4 linked regions of the Homo sapiens genome follow. The protein of the gene in region 2 purifies or fractionates together with the protein of the main gene of each other region. This does not show direct contact. Each region holds a gene or a part of one and is shown on either strand. Other genes may lie near its edges. The genes, in order: GM2A, L2HGDH, ACP3 and HAVCR2.

The links.
Region 1: the proteins of L2HGDH (region 2) and GM2A purify together in Homo sapiens (affinity purification with mass spectrometry, with the first as the bait; one large-scale study listed by BioGRID). This does not show direct contact.
Region 3: the proteins of L2HGDH (region 2) and ACP3 purify together in Homo sapiens (affinity purification with mass spectrometry; one large-scale study listed by BioGRID and IntAct). This does not show direct contact.
Region 4: the proteins of L2HGDH (region 2) and HAVCR2 purify together in Homo sapiens (co-immunoprecipitation; one large-scale study listed by IntAct). This does not show direct contact.

What each region holds. Positions count from the first base shown.
Region 1 is NC_000005.10:151,259,448-151,263,715, forward strand, and holds part of GM2A (ganglioside GM2 activator isoform 1 precursor), read left to right. Parts: intron 1-307; coding exon 308-469; intron 470-4,268.
Region 2 is NC_000014.9:50,266,462-50,270,729, reverse strand, and holds part of L2HGDH (L-2-hydroxyglutarate dehydrogenase, mitochondrial isoform 1 precursor), read left to right. Parts: intron 1-1,399; coding exon 1,400-1,567; intron 1,568-2,819; coding exon 2,820-2,977; intron 2,978-4,268.
Region 3 is NC_000003.12:132,323,370-132,327,637, forward strand, and holds part of ACP3 (prostatic acid phosphatase isoform PAP precursor), read left to right. Parts: intron 1-4,268. UniProt on the Homo sapiens protein: A non-specific tyrosine phosphatase that dephosphorylates a diverse number of substrates under acidic conditions (pH 4-6) including alkyl, aryl, and acyl orthophosphate monoesters and phosphorylated proteins.
Region 4 is NC_000005.10:157,102,532-157,106,799, reverse strand, and holds part of HAVCR2 (hepatitis A virus cellular receptor 2 precursor), read left to right. Parts: coding exon 1-173; intron 174-2,050; coding exon 2,051-2,134; intron 2,135-4,268. UniProt on the Homo sapiens protein: Cell surface receptor implicated in modulating innate and adaptive immune responses. Generally accepted to have an inhibiting function.

The sequences.
Region 1 (4,268 bases), on a different chromosome or scaffold from region 2:
CACCAAAGGCCAATTAGGTCAGTCTCCTGTTTGGAAGTTCCAGGTCTATCATATCCTGCCTTATAGTTTACAATACACTTTTGGGAGATTATGTCTTTTGAGTCTTTTAGTTTAGTCCTGCCTATAAAATGAGTAGGATAAGTGTTATCCCAGCTTCATAGGTATGGAGTCTCATAGATGAGGCTCAGGGACGGGGGTGCCTCACCCAAGGTCACTCTGCCAGGAGCTCATTTTTCCTGTGATCTGTGATAGTTTCTTTTGTCAACCTTTTTCTTCTTCTCCTTCCTTGCTGCCTGATTGTCCCCAGCCATCCCAGCTCAGTAGCTTTTCCTGGGATAACTGTGATGAAGGGAAGGACCCTGCGGTGATCAGAAGCCTGACTCTGGAGCCTGACCCCATCATCGTTCCTGGAAATGTGACCCTCAGTGTCATGGGCAGCACCAGTGTCCCCCTGAGTTCTCCTCTGAAGGTGAGCCTGGGGGTGGGTGGAGAAGGGGAGGTGCGAGGGTCTGGCCAGCAGGGGTACTGGGGCATGTATGCTTGGGGAACTGTGAAGAATTTCAGAATCCTGGATTCCCAGAGAATAGTACAGGACATGTAGATTCAGACACTCTTTCACAGGTTCATGGAATCTCAGGATCATAAGATTGAAAGGAATCTCTGATGTCAGCGCCAGCAACTTCCTGGTGAGGGCAGGAGTGACGGATACCTTGCACCTGGCAGAAGCGTCCTGGCCTTCTCTGGGCCTGGTGGCCAACTGCTCATTATTGTCTGACAGCTCTGGTTGGCCAATTTGGTTTTGTTGTTAATTATAAAATTGATATACCAATTAGCCAGTAATATATAGTCACTTTAGAAAACACAAGTGGTCAAAAAATAAATAAAATAGGCCAGGTGTGGTGGCTCATGCCTGTAATCCCAACACTTTGGGAGGCTGAGGTGGGTGGATCTTTTGAGGTCAGGAGTTTGAGACCAGCCTGGCCAACATAGTGAAACCCCATCTCTACTAAAAGTACAAAAATTAGCTGGGCGTGGTGGCATGTGCCTGTAATCCTAGCTACTCAGGAGGCTGAGGTAGGAGAATTGCTGGAACCCAAGAGGCAGAGGTTGCAGAAAGCCAGGATCGCACCACTGCACTCCAGCCTGGGTGACAGAGTGAAACTCTGTCCCAAAATAAATAAATAAATAAAATAAATCACTTGAAATCTCACTACCTAGTGATAAGGGATAAGCACTTTTAACATCTTATAGGATATTCTTTGCAACTTTCCCCCATACAATTACATACATAACACACATATTTATTTTTAATGGATATGTATGATAATAGGCAGTGCTCATTGTAAATGTCCTCCAGTAATCTAAATCCTAGAGATAGTCAGTGTTTGCTCTTTATATATCCCATCAGAATTTTTATGTGTTTGTAAATATATACACACTTATACTCATGGGATTATATGATATGTGCTATTATACTTGCTATTTTTTTTGCCTCATACTATATGTCCATATCTTTCCAAGGATTAGGTGGCTCTACTTATTCAATTTTTTTTTATCCAATCATTATTTTATTATTTTAATGTATTGTAATTTTAGAGACAGTGTGTCACTCTGTTGCTCAGGCTGGAGTGCAGTAGTGTGATCATGGCTTACTGCAGCCTTGACCTCCTGGGCTTAAGGGATCCTCCCACCTCAGCCTCCTGAGTAGCTGGGACCACAGGTTCATGTCACCATGCTTACCTAATTTTTTTATTTTTTATGGAGACGGAGCCTCCCTGTGTTGCCCAGGCTGGTCTCAAACTCCTGAGTTCAAGCAATCCTCCTGCCTCAGACTCTCAAAATGTTGGGATTATAGGCGTGAGCCACCTTGCTCAGCCCACCCAATCATTTTTAATGGCAGAAATATTCTGATGTGGATCTTTCATAATTTATATAACAAGTCTATTGTTGAACATTTAGTTTGTTTCCAGGGTAGTTTTTATTTGTTTGTTTGTTTATTTGTTTGTTTTGAGACAGGTTCTTACTCTGTTGCCTAGGCTGGAGTGCAGTAGCGCAATCTCAGCTCCCTGCAACCTCCACTTCCCGGGTTCAAGCGATTCTCCTGTCTCAGCCTCCCAAAGTGCTGGGATTACAGGCACCTGCCATTGCGCCCCACTAATTTTTGTATTTTTAGTAGAGATGGGGTTTCACCATGTTGGCCAGGCTGGTCTTGAACTCCTGACCTCAGGCAATGTGCCTGCCTCGGCCTCCCAAAGTGCTGGGATTACAGACACCTGCCACCATGCCCAGCTACTTTTTGTATTTTTAGTAGAGATGGGGTTTCACCATGTTATCCAGGCTGGTCTTGAACTCCTGACCTCAGGCAATCCACCTGCCTCAGCCTCCCAAAGTGCTGGGATTATAGGCTTGAGCCACTGTACCTGGCCAGAGGGTTTTTTTTGTTTGTTTGTTTTTTGTTTTGCTGTAGTAACCACCTTTGTAGAAATTATTCTTATAGTACATCTTTTTATAATTTTCTGATTCTCTAGATACACACTTTTTAGGTCTTTTGATACATTTTGCCAAAGTGCCTCCCAATGTTTGAATAAACCTGCATCATTCCTAGTGAGCGTAGATGTCTATTCATAAGTTTATTTGCCTTTTGTATTTACTTTGGGAATAACCTGTTTGTTTCCATCCATTGACTATTTTAGGGGTGTATGTTTTTATATTTTCTTAGAAAACAATGAAGACTTTTCATATATCCATTGCAACACCATTTAATATGGTCCTTTCCTCTCTAGCTAAAATTGCTACCTTTATATGATGCTCCTCTATGCCCTTCAGTCTGTTCCTGATCCAGATCTATTCTAGTACCAGTTTTGTGTTAATTATTTAGAAGATTCCTGATTTGGATTCTGTGTTTCTATCATTATCCTTAGACCTGTCTTAATCACAGCTCCTACGTTATGGGCTTTCCTTGAGCAATACCTGAGTTAGAAAATCATGTGGAAAGTGCTTTGCACAGGGCCTGGCACCCAGGACATGCTCAGTACATTTTATATCTTGTGAACATTTCGATTAGTATCTGTCTTATCCTGCAGTCTCTTGACCCAGACACAAGTCCTGGATATGTGGCAGCTTTCAGCTCCCCTGCACCTCCTACCAAGCCTTTTCCTAGCAGAGTCATTGTGTTTCCATTACTGTTCCTCAAGTGATAGGGGGTCAAGCCCTGTACCCTTGGATCTGGGCCAAGGGATGGAATCATTCCCTATGTATGGACACTGGACTGTTTCTCTGCCAGGGTCACACACATTTATTTGTGTGCTCCCTCTGCTGATCTGGAGTGTGGGCTCTCCTGGTAGGCCGTCCGCCATGCTCCCTCTGCTGCCATCACCATGCAGCCACTGGTGTTTCCAGGGAGGGGGCTATGCAGCTGACTTGGAAACAAGAAGCTGGCAAACCCGCTCTTCTGCCCTCAGCCTGCTTTTCCTGGCTTCTTCACAAACCATTAAGATGGGTTTTACTCCCTATTCTCCTTTTCCATTGCTTTATTACCTTTCATAAATTTGGGCCTACATAATCTCCTCTGTCTTTACTGTCACTTGTGCTTAGGAAAAATTAGCCTCAGATCCCCTCTGCTCCTTCTTTTTCCCCAATTTCTTTTTTTTTTTTTTTTTTTTTGAGATGGAGTTTCACTCTGTTGCCTAGACTGGAGTGTAGTCGCGCGATCATGGCTCATTGCAACCTCTGCCTCCCGGTTTCAAGGGATTCTCCTGCGTCAGCCTCCAGAGTAGCTGGGATTATAGGCGTGCACTTTTTTAGTAGAGATGGGGTTTTGTCACATTGGCCAGGCTGGTCTCAAACTCCTGACCTCAGGTGATCTGCCCACCTTGGCCTCCCAAAGTGCTGGGATTACAGGCGTGAGCCACCAGGCCCGGCTCCCAATATTTCTCGTATATATATATATATTTATTTATTTATTTGGTTCAGTTCTTTTTTCAGGATATGTGCATATCAACTATTAGATGAAAGCTCTTCTGACCACTTGCTAGGGAGAAGAGCCGATGAGGGACAAAGGGTCTCAGGAAAGGTTGCAACTTGACCCAGGTCACAAAGCTAGTTGTTAGCATGGACAAGGCTGGTATGTTTATCTTGGGGTTTGGTTCCTGAGCTTTTACTGGCAGGGAGGTAGACTTGGTGCTTGGTGTATTTGCAGGGGAGGGGAGAGGAGTGCTGCAGATTCAGTTCCAGAACTCTCCCCTTGCCCAGCAGACCTGCTTATGAGA
Region 2 (4,268 bases):
TCGAGACCATCCTGGCTAACACGGTGAAACCCCGTCTCTACTAAAAATACAAAAAATTAGCCGGGCGTGGTGGCGGGCGCCTGTAGTTCCGGCTACTCGGAAGGCTGAGGCAGGAGAATGGCGTGAACCCAAGAGGTGGAGCTTGCAGTGAGCCGAGATCGCTGCCACTGCACTCCAGCCTGGGCAACAGAGTGAGGCTCCGTCTCAAAACAACAACAACAACAACAACAACAACAAAACAGTAAGGCCTGGAAAGAAAGAAAATGTTGAGACAGGTGAGAACTCTGAGGCTTCAAAAATAGGTCATCTGGGAAGAAGATCTAAGAATAAGAACAGAATTGCTAGGTGTTTACTCTGTAAGAAGTAAAGAGATGGGAATTCAAGTGTGGTGGTGAATGCGGGATAAATGAAGTCATTTAGGAAATAGGGTGACAAATTGGCTAAACTTAGTGAGTAAAGTTAAAAATAAGCAGATGATAATCACAAAATAAAATTTATAGGAAATCATAACAGCCTAACATTAGCAGTCTAAAGCTGGTCACTAAAGCAAACGTTGAACGTAGTGTGTGCTCTCATTAAATGTGCATTGAATGAATGAGATTTCTAAAGTGTCCTCAGTTTGCAAAGTAGATATTGATTAGGAAGGAGAAATTGCTTGGTGGGTAGGTTACAGTTGCAACTGGGCAGGATTATTGAGTGTGAAGCAACCGAAGAGTAACACGGTAATTGCTCAGATACAGGAGAAGCTGGTTGCAATACAGAGTTTGCCTTTAAATGAGAGGGTTACAGGCCCTTCGACTTCAGTGCCAGAGATGTTATGGATATAATTATCAATAGGTAATAACTTTAATTTTAAAATGATTTTATGTGCTTATATTTTTAATGTAGGAAGTTTTGTCTTTCTTGATATTCTGCTGATTGGGTAAATCCTCATATTTGTGATTGGTATATTGAATTTTTAATTAATCCAAATTAAAAGCTGTGGGGTGGGTGGGGGAGCAAAAAAAATTGGTGGAGGCTGTCTAAATGACATTTGCTTCCTCATGCAGCAAATAGTTAAGAAGCTCCCTGCTAGGTCCTAATAAACAGATTTGTATGTATTTGTATGTATGTATTTGTGTGCATGCATGTATACCTTACTAAGTATCCTTGCTAGGTTGACCATTATTATCTTTACAGTACAAAATTTAAGGTGACATCCTCTTACATGCCACTATCCTAAGTTTCTAGCTGCCACCTAAATGCTAAAGAACATATTTTGCTGATACCTGTATTGAATATCCTCTTTTAGAAAAAATTCTATTTCTGTACCTTTTTTTCTTTTCTATCACCTGTTTTTCCCCTCTTGACCTATTCTACTCCACTTTATACAAATAACTGTTCTTTTATTTTGCACTAGGGAGAGGAAATTCGATGTCAGTATGTTGTGACATGTGCAGGACTTTACTCAGACCGTATTTCAGAGTTGAGTGGCTGCACTCCTGATCCTCGAATTGTACCATTCCGGGGAGATTACCTGCTTTTGAAGCCAGAAAAATGTTATCTTGTAAAAGGAAATATTTATCCGGTAGGTAATGATGCTTCCTACTTCTCATTTTTTTCAAGCAGGTGGTGGTCATAAAGGAGATGAAAACAACTTTCACTTGGGTCAGAAATAAGAGAAATTTTGAAGGACCGTTTTTGTAAGCATTTCATCGGTTTCTCTTGTGGTTAAATCCCTAAATCTTTATCCCTGTATCATGGTTATTAAATTGTAATTAATTGCCTGCAGGTACATGTCTCCAGAAAGCATGAGTGCACTCTGGGAAGTGCTATCAAGAAGGAACTGAATTCTACCTTCTCTCTGGTGGAGGGAAAGGGAAAACTTTCCCTTATGGAAGTCCCTGATACCCAACCCTTTTCCTCAGTTCACTATCTGTAGGTACAGAAAAGGGATGTGGCCACTCTGTAGTTTCAGGGAGTAGAAGACAGAGGTATTTAAATGAGGAGTTCATTCTTCTGTCTGGAACTACCCTGGAAATGAATGAATCTCTTAAAATATATTAGGTCGAACCAGATGAAATAGTCAGTATTCGGCTATTTGATATTTTTGAGCTTGCCGAAACATGAATTTCATCTGCTTCAACCTCATGTATTTGTACTTTGCAGAAGCCTGTGCTATGAATGTGTATTTTTTTCTGGCAGCTCTGATTTTACTTGCCAGTCATAGACATCCCTTGTGAAAGACCGAGAATAGCCTGAAGTAAGACAGTTCATCTTTTTTTTTTCCTTTACCCAGAAAGATGCATAGATGGAACAATCTATTAGTGTCAGTAGCATCAGAGTTTCTTTTTTTTTTTTTTTTTTTTCCTGAGACAGATTCTCACTCTGTTGCCCAGGCTGGAGTGCAGTGGCATGATCTTGGCTTATTGCAACCTCCATCTCCTGGGTTTAAGTGATTCTCATGCCTCAGCCTCCCAAGTAGCTGGGATCACAGGTGCACACCACCACGCCAGGCTAATTTTTGTATTTTTAGTAGAGATGGGGTTTCACCATGTTGGCCAGGCTGGTTTTGAACTCCAGATCTCAAATGATCCTCACGCCTCAGCCTCCCAAAGTGTTGAGATTACAGGCGTGAGCCACCACACCCAGCCAGCATCAGGGTTTCTTGTGTGCATTTCTAAGCAGAAGCATGTTAATGGAAAAGTATATCTGAGTACAGCTCACAATACAAATTAAATGCATGAGAAGAAAGTGTTTTATGTTACCAATTGAATGTTTGCATCTCTGATAACATGGAATGTGAAATGAGGCTGTTATTTACTATGTTAAATTTATAGGTCCCAGATAGCCGGTTTCCTTTCCTAGGAGTTCACTTCACACCAAGGATGGATGGCAGTATTTGGCTAGGGCCTAATGCAGTTCTTGCCTTTAAACGAGAGGGTTACAGACCCTTTGACTTCAGTGCCACAGATGTTATGGATATAATTATCAATAGGTAACATTATTTATTTTTAAAAATGATTTTATGTGCTTATATTTTCAATGTGGGAAGTTTTGTCTTTCTTGATACTCTACTTATTGGGTAAATCCCCATATTTGTGATTGGTATATTGAATGTTGTATTAATCCAAATTAAAAGCTTTGGAGTGGATGGGGTAGCAAACAAACAAACAAACAAACAAAAAAAAAAATGCCTTTTGGAATAAGTATAACATTTTAACTACTTCAAGAAAATTCTGTTGAGCTGGGGTTAAAAAGAAAAGGCTGGCTGGGCGCAGTGGCTCATGCCTGTAATCCCAGCACTCTGGGAGGCCGAGGCAGGTGGATCATGAGGTCAGGAGATCAAGACCATCCTGGCTAACACGATGAAGCCCCATCTCTACTAAAAATACAAAAAATTAGCTAGGCGTGGTGGCTGGCACCTGTAGTCCCAGCTACTTGGGAGGCTGAGGCAGGAGAATGGCATGAACCCGGGAGGCAGAGCTTGCAGTGAGCTGAGATCGCTGCCACTGCACTCCAGCCTGGGCGACAGAGCAAGACTCCATCTCAAAAAATGAATAAATAAATAAATAAATAAATAAATAAATAAATAAATAAATAAAAATAAAAAGAAGATAAGGCCAAGAGTTATTCATATATCTGGCAATCCAAATCTTGTATTGCTAAGTTTCCAGTTTTATTTGGTGGGGGAGGAAATAGATTCTCTCAAAATCAGTAGATGGCTATTTTAATAAAATCATTTTGAGCCAGTCTCCATCATTTTGTAAGCCACTGGAGAAATTACTGATGACCAAAGTAATTTCCTTGTGTAGGAAACTAACAATACGATTGTGTTGACCTAAGATGCAGATTCTTTACTATTGTAAGAAATACTGAATTAGGTATTTTGTTTGGTCCTTTTACCAATGTTTCTCTCTAAAGGGTTTCACATGAAAATCACTAGATTTTCCTGTTTAAATCACTAGATTTAAAGCTATACTTGAGTTTCACCCTCTATGGATTCTGAAACAGAAAGTTTAGGATGGAGCTTCCTGGCACATGTAGTTGTAAAAATATATACATATGTGCATCTAGGCTTTGCAGAGTCTCACTTGAAAATCACAACTAAAGTTTTTTTGGTTTTTTGTTTTGTAATTTTGAGACAAGGTCTCACTTTGTCCTCACTGCAGCCTCAACCTCCTGGGATCAATCAGTTCTCCCACTTCAGCCTCCAAGTAGCTGGAACTACAGGCAGATGCTACCATGCCCAGATAATTTTTGTGTTTTCTGTAGAGACAGGGTTTCGC
Region 3 (4,268 bases), on a different chromosome or scaffold from region 2:
CTTGTGACAGCAAGGCTTCTGCTTTCAAGGAGTTTCTAGGGACAGGGAGGGAGCCAGATTTTTTTTAATTTTAGTAAAAACAAAAAATAAGAAAACATCAGGAATATTTATTTGAAATAAAACAGTGAGATAAGATAGAGATTGAGCAAGAATTATAATGATGGTCAAGGGATGTCTCTCTGTAAAGGTCAAATTTTCAGGACAGACCTCAAATTGATGAGTGGTGTGTATGCTGAGAGAAGACGCAGACTTGAGACATTCAAAGCAGACAGGACATCAAGAGCAAAGGCCCTGAGGCTTCAGCAAATTTAGTATATTGGATGTAACAGCAGGAGGGCCCATGTGGGTAAGCTGAGGACATCAAGGTGAGAATATCAAGGTGGGTAGGGACCAGATCAGGTAAGATCTTGTGAGCCCTTGTAAGGACCTTTAATTTATGCAAAGAGCAATAGAACATGATATAATATCTAAGAGTGATGAGGATATAAAAGAAACAAGACTAGCCACATACAAGTTGATAATTGTTGGAGACAGTGGTGGGCTCATGATAAAAATCTCCACTTTTAGGCTGGGCACAGTGGCTCACGCCTGTAATCCCAACACTTTGGGAGGCCAAGGCGAGTGGATCACCTGAGGTCGGGAGTTCGAGACCAGCCTGGCCAACATGGCGAAACCCCGTCTCTACTAAAAATACAAAAATTAGCCAGGCGTGGTGGCAGGTGCTTGTAATCCCAGCTACTTGGGAGGGTGAGGCAGGAAAATCACTTGAACCTGGGAGGCAGAGGTTGCAGTGAGCCAAGATCATGCCATTGCACTCCAGCCTGGGCAACAAGAGCAGGACTCCATCTCAAAAAAAAAAAAAAAAAAACTCCACTTTTGTATATCTTTACATTTTCCACTGGATATAGCCTCGACTGTACTCACCAGGTTCTCCACACCCTAAGCCACATGCCAGATTTGTTTAGCAGATTCAGTGGAGCAGGTTCATTCATGGGGGCACCAAACCAAAAGTCCTTTTAAAAACAGTTACCTATGATTTAAAAGTGTGAAGTGATTGTAGTATGATGGGGAAACAGTGGGCCAACTATCATGAGAATTAGGAGATCTGGACAGCTACATGATCTCTTTGATCATATAGTTTTCTTACTTGCTCAGTGCAGCAGTAGTGCCAACCTGTCCTCAGACGGGGATGTAATAATTAAAAGAGGTAGCAGGGGAAAATTCTACAAACCATGGAGGGTTGTGCAAATGTAAGGAATTATTATTTTTTTTTATTTTTATTTATTTATTTTGAGACGGAGTCTCACTCTGTCACCAGGCTGAAGTGCAGTGGCACGATCTCGGCTTACTGCAACCTCTGCCTCCCAGGTTCAAGTGATTCTCCTGCCTCAGTCTCCCGAGTAGCTGGGACTACAGGCATGCGCCACCACACCCAGCTAATTTTTGTATTTTTAGTAGAGATGGGGTTTCACCATGTTGGCCAGGATAGTCTTGATCTCCTGACCTCATGATCCGCCTGCCTCAGCCTCCCAAAGTGCTGGGATTATAGGCATGAGCCACTGTGCCTGGCCAGGAATTGTTATTATCTTGGATGTCTTTCTATTACAATTACCACTACTACTGCAAAAATCCTAATTGCTAATAAAGTATTTTTAGGTTTTTAAAGGATTTCATAGAGTATGATTGCTGGACTGAGCACAGAGGTAATAATTGGTAGAGCAGCAGTTAAGAAGATTGCTCTACCACAGAATTAAAAGAATGTCTTCGCATAGTCCAAGAACTCCAGCTGAATTTTGAAACTCCAAAAGCTCAAGGAACACCAGCTTCACATTTGCCTGCGGGAGGGGTGTGTGCACACATTTTGATTTCCAGCCCTGGAAGTGGAGAATGGTTTATTAAGTGTTTCTCCAGGACATCCCTTCCAAAGGGTTGACAGCATGTTTGAGCAACTACCTTGGAAACACTTAAAACCTACTGAAATGTAGGGGAGTACAATTATTTCTGAACTATGGGCCAGAGTGAGAAAGTTTGCCCAAGTCTCATGATTATGTTCCAGTTCTCTGCTCTTCAAAACACTCTGCTAAGGTGACCACACTTGTTTTTCTCTCTCAGGCCATTCTGTCATTTAGTTGCATAACCTCAGTTCTATTCTTTCAATAATATACATAGTTCACAGTGCCTTCGGGGTAGTTTCCGTATCAAGGTTTTGGTTTCTTCTGATACAAAACACACACACACACACACACACACCCCTTCCAATCCTAGAGGAAAAGAGTATACTAAGTAGAGTTAATAAAGAAGCGTTAGATCCCAGACCATTCAGATTTAGCTGGTGGGACTGTGAGGAGTGTGATCATACAGAAATGAACCTCTCACAGGTGGTTAAGTATGCTGGAGTTGGAGGCACAGCCTGTGTTTGAATATCAGCTCTACCACTTCTTACATGCTGTGTGAGTTTAGACAGGTCACTTAATTAAGCTAAACTTCCTCATTTGTGAAATGGAAATAATAATAGTAACTGCTTTGTGGAACTGATGAGAAGATTACATCTATGAGAAGCACTTAGCACAGTTTCCAGGACAAAGTGAGTGTTCAAAAAATGTTAAGGAGTTACCGTTGTGGTTATAGGTTGGTGGGAAGCAATGTAAATTATTTTATTACAATGTCTCTCACCTGACTTCTCTTTGGCTAACTCAGTGGCTCTCAACTTGGGGTGATTTTCTGCCCCTATGGCAGAAAATGTGCCTTTTTCAGTTGTCACAGCTGGGGAATGTTACTGGCATCCGGTGGGTAAAGGCTAGGGATGCTGCTAGACATTCTACAATGCACAGGACAACCCCCACAACAAAGAATTATCTAGCCCAAAATGTCAACAATGCTGAGGTTGAGAAGCCCTAGAAACTAAAACAGTGTGGGGTTTGTAATTTATTGAAACCATGTAACAACTTTAGTTATTCAAAGACACATTTACCTGGGATATAAAAACTCTAAAATGTACTTCAATTGTGGAAAGAGGCATCAATGATTAACCATAATCATTTCTGATCATGACCAAGTCACCCCTGAGACTAGTAACTGCAGGTGCTCACAAAAAAATATGCAGCTGTCCTTCCTGCCTTCAGGGGATCATTCATGAAAGTAATTTCTCACCTGACCAAAATGATCGCTTAACATTTATTGCATCATTGCCCCTGTTTCTGTAGACTACTCTACCGAAGTTTTAATTTGTCACTAGTTTAAAGGGCCAAAAGATCTGTTTTCTTCAGATATTAGAGACACAAACCAAGCATCTCCCACTTTCTTGGAATTCCTTCTCAAAAATGACTAAAGTCTGAGACTGTTTTCTTATTTAATGTCTATTGAATTCTGTTTTACAGAATTTCAAAAGAGCAGGTTCTTAGCTTACTTTTCAATGGAACATTTTAGCCAGGTAGTATAAGTACAGGTGCGGGTAACCTCAGATAAATCAAGGTGTTATGCAGCTGTCTCTATATTAAAAATATTTGCTGACATCAGTGTAGACTTCATCTTGTAGTTCTTCAGTGTTTTCTTTCCTTATCTTTTGCTCATAAGATGGCTTTGTGTTTGGTTTGATATTATACTGAGAAAGCATATTAGAATCAAAGCACCAAGATTTCAAAAGTCCAGACTACTCTTCCCAAAGAGAAATGTGCAATCACAATAGCATGACATGGGTACAAATATAGAAGTATGTTATTAAAGTATTGAGAATTAGCTTTCCTAACCTCCCCACCTGCAATCTTTTACTCCTAATCTCCAAAAAATGAACAAATCATTGGCTCAAAATGGTCACAAATTGTATGTGGTGTTAAAAATCTATTATTTTTATTGTATATAAAATGTTGCCAGGTGTGGTGGCTCATGCCTGTAATCCCAGCACTTTGGGAGGCCAAGGCAGGTGGATCACTAGGTCAGGAGTTCAAGACCAGCCTGGCCAACATGGTGAAACCCCATCTCTACTAAAAATACAAAGATTAGCTGGGTGTGGTGGCGTGTGCCTGTAATCCCAGCTTCTCGGGAGGCTGAGGCATGAGAATCACTTGAACCTGGGAGGCAGAGGCTACAGCGAGCCAAGATGGTGCCATTGCACTCCAGCCTAGATGACAGAGCAAGACTCAGTCTCGAAAAAAAAAAAAAAGTTATACTAGTTGGGCACGGTGGCTCACACCTGTAATCCCAGCACTTTGGAAGGCCGAGGCAAGTGGACCACCTGAGGTCAGGAGTTCAAGACCAGCCTGGCCAACATG
Region 4 (4,268 bases), on a different chromosome or scaffold from region 2:
TGTGAATTATTGGACATCCAGATACTGGCTAAATGGGGATTTCCGCAAAGGAGATGTGTCCCTGACCATAGAGAATGTGACTCTAGCAGACAGTGGGATCTACTGCTGCCGGATCCAAATCCCAGGCATAATGAATGATGAAAAATTTAACCTGAAGTTGGTCATCAAACCAGGTGAGTGGACATTTGCATGCCATCTTTATGAATAAGATTTATCTGTGGATCATATTAAAGGTACTGATTGTTCTCATCTCTGACTTCCCTAATTATAGCCCTGGAGGAGGGCCACTAAGACCTAAAGTTTAACAGGCCCCATTGGTGATGCTCAGTGATATTTAACACCTTCTCTCTGTTTTAAAACTCATGGGTGTGCCTGGGCGTGGTGGCTCACACCTCTAATCCCAGCACTTTGGGAGGCTGAGGCCGGTGGATCATGAGGTCAGGAATTCGAGACCAGCCTGGCCAACATAGTAAAACCTTGTCTCCACTAAAAATACAAAAAATTAGCCAGGCATGGTTACGGGAGCCTGTAATTCTAGCTACTTGGGGGGCTGAAGCAGGAGAATCACTTGAACCTGGGAGTCGGAGGTTGTGGTAAGCCAAGATCTCGCCATTGTACTCCAGCCTGGCTGACAAGGGTGAAACTCTGTCTCAAAAAAAAAAAAAGAAAAGAAAAGAAAAGCCAAAACTCATGGGTGGAATGTATAGATGGGATGAAAGGCCTAGATCAGTGGTTAGAGACCCTGACTCTCATTAGAATCACATAGAGAGTTTTTAAACAACTATAGATGCCAGGTACAGTGGCTCATGCCTATAATCCCAATACTTTGAGAGGCTGAAGCAGGAGGATCACTTGAGGTCAGGAGTTTGAGACCAGCCTGGCTGATATACTGTGGCTACCCCTATCTCTTAAAAAGCAGAAGAAAAAACCCCACTACCAAAAACCAGAGAAATCAGCATCTCTGGAGGTAGATGCTAAGCATTAGCTTTTTACAGAGTCTACCTCAGGTGATTTTACCCCAGGTGCAGCCAGCATGGTGAACTGCTGGGTTATGCATGTATGCTGGGAGGTGAACAGACTTAAGATTTCTATAACATGTACTTTGTGCCCAGATAGAGCTGAGTTTACATCTAACTCTGCCTCTTACTAGCTATATAATCCTGAGCAAGTTATTGAAACGCTGTGAGCTCCTCTTCTATAAAATATGACAATAATACCGATCATGTGGGCCATTAGAAGGATTTTATGTGATAATATTTTATTAAAAGCCTTTATAGGTTGGGCATCCCAAATCTGAAAATCTAAAACCTAAAATGCACCAAAATCTGAAATGCTCTAAAATCCAAAACTTTTTGGACACTGACATGACATTCAAAGGAAAAGCTCATTGGAACATAAGTATAGGCAGATACTAAAAAATAAAAAAATAAAAACATGGCTGGGCGTGGTGGCTCATGCCTATAATCCCAGCACTTTGGGAGGCTGAGGTGGGTGGATCACCTGAGGTCGGGAGTTCGAGACCAGTCTGACCAACATGGAGAAACCCTGTCTCTACTAAAAATACAAAATTAGCCAGGTGTGGTTGCACATGCCTGTAGTCCCAGCTACTCAGGAGTCTGAGGCAGGAGAATTGCTTGAACCCAGGAGGCGGAGGTTGCAGTGAGCCGAGATTATGCCATTGCACTCCAGCCTGGGCAACAAGAGCAAAACTCCGTTTCAAAAAAAAAAAAAAAATTCAAAATCTAAAACATTTCTGATCTCAAGCATTTCAGATAAGGAGTCTTCAACCTGTAATTATGGCCATTTGTGTGGCTGTTAGTTCCGCTATTAATAATCAGAATGTAACAATGATGACTGCATCTTACCTTTGTCAAACATTTGAAGTGTGTGATACACTCTCAACGTAGGTATCCAGGCAGGTTTGGAAGCTGAGGGTGTATTTCTCTTTCTTAATTGTCTTTCGCATTTTTTTCTTGCTGCCCCTTTGATTCCCTGAAATAAGCTTTCTGCTCTCAGATAATTTTCATCCTTATGTTGTTTCTGACATTAGCCAAGGTCACCCCTGCACCGACTCGGCAGAGAGACTTCACTGCAGCCTTTCCAAGGATGCTTACCACCAGGGGACATGGCCCAGGTAACTATGCATGGGGCAGAGGAGGGAATCTTTAGCTGGCTCTGAATTCAGAGGATTTTGAATGTGGGAAAAAAAGATGAGAAAACAGTGTGAGAGTGGAGGCATGGATATCTCCGTGCACCTGAAATAGTGTTTGAAAAGAGGGAAGTGGTGGAGACACACCTGTGCTGGGAAAAAGATGGTCTGGCTTAGGATTATTTTACTTAAATTTTAACTGGAAAAAAGTTAATAAACTTTATAGTCTTTAATTTTACTTAAATATTAACTAAATTGAATGAAATGCTCATTACTTTGTCCACATTTTCTGACTGACCCTGGACTGGTGATGTTTGGTCATGAACTGGTGTCAGTCTGTGTTTGGGAACTGACACATTGGATTAGGTGATTTCTAGGATGCCTTCTAGCTAGAATAAAGCCCATCACCTTCCCTGGATTCCAGCCACAGAAAGAATAGTTAAATTCTTCATGTAATTCAGCAAGGACGTACTCAGGGTGCTCCAGAAGAGAACACTGGGCATAAAGCAGAAGTCAAGTCACATTGATCATGAAGGTTAATTTTAAGGTATTTCTTGTCAGTGTCCTGGTCTCTTCTAAACTCTCTGGAGCTCCATTTTTTTTTTCTTCTGTAAAATGAGGTTAATAGGTGAGTCCCACCTCATAATGTCATAAATCTCATAAATCACACCTTATGGGCTTTAAATAAGAAAATGTCTAAAACGTTTATCCCAATGTCTGACCACAATTTGTACATGTTAGCTGTTGTCGTTAATATTATAAGATCAGGAGGCACAGTGAGATTGTGGTTAAAGTACTTCAGTGACAGGTGGAATGGGTTCTAATTTCAGCTGTTCTTGATAGCTCTGTGACCTCAGTCAAGTTGCTCAAATTCTCTGAAGCTCAGTTTGCTCATCTCTACAATGAGGATAATTCCAGTGCCCATGTCATGAGGTGGTTGTAATGTATAAACATGATAATGTATGTAAAATGCTCAGCATAGTACCTGGCCCATAAAAAGCACTCAACTGTTTATTATTACTATAGTTACTGGTTTTAGCTCTCCAAAGTTTCAGTCTTTGGTTAGTCTTTAGTGATTGGTAGCCAACATCTTTTATGCAATTAGAGAGGAAACTAAATATGGTGGGGACAGAAAATAATAAAGTTATACCAGATACTTATTGTATGCCATTGTTATATTTTAAAGAATCTTACAACCATAGTGCTAGAAGGGACTTCAAGGGTCATTTAGTCTCACTTTCCCATCCTGTGCTTCAGTACTTTTTTTTTTTTTTTTAATTGAGACGGAGTCTTGCTCTGTCACCCAGACTAGAGTGCAGTGGCGCAATCTCGGCTCACTGCAAGTTCCGCCTCCTGGGTTCACGCCATTCTCCTGCCTCAGCCTCCCAAGTAGCTGGGACTACAGGCGCCCACCATCAAGCCCAGCTAATTTTTTTCTTTTTTGTATTTTTAGTAGAGACAGAGTTTCACCGTGTTAGCCAGGATGGTCTCCATCTCCTGACCTTGTGATCCTCCCGCCTCGGCCTCCCAAAGTGCTGGGATTACACGCGTGAGCCACCGCGCCCGGCCAGTACTTTTTACTACATCACCACTGAATGGGCATTTGCTGTAGACGGAGTTCACTCCCTGTCGAGGTGGTGCATTTCCTTATACTTGTCTCTACCACAGACAGAAGTCTTCTTTCCTTTAGTTTTTCTTTCCTTTTTTTTTTTTTTTGAGACGGAGTCTCACTCTCTCACCCAGGCTGGAGTGCAATGACACGATCTTGGCTCACTGCAAACTCTGCCTCCCAGGTTCATGCCATTCTCCTGCCTCAGCCTCCCAAGTAGCTGGGATTACAGACGCGCGCCACCACGCCCCGCTAATTTTTGTATTTTTATTAGAGACGGGGTTTCACCATGGTGGCCATGCTGGTCTCGAACTCCTAACCTCAGGTGATCCCTCTGCCTCGGCCTCCCAAAGCGCTGGGATTACAGGTGTAAGCCACCACGCCCAGCCTTCCCTTTAGTTTTTGTTTGTTAGTTCCTTCCCTCTAGGGCAACAAAAATGGGAATATAGGAATAATACCTCGAACCTCTGAGCTTCTCAAGGGCCTGACTGAGAAAAAATATTGAAACAA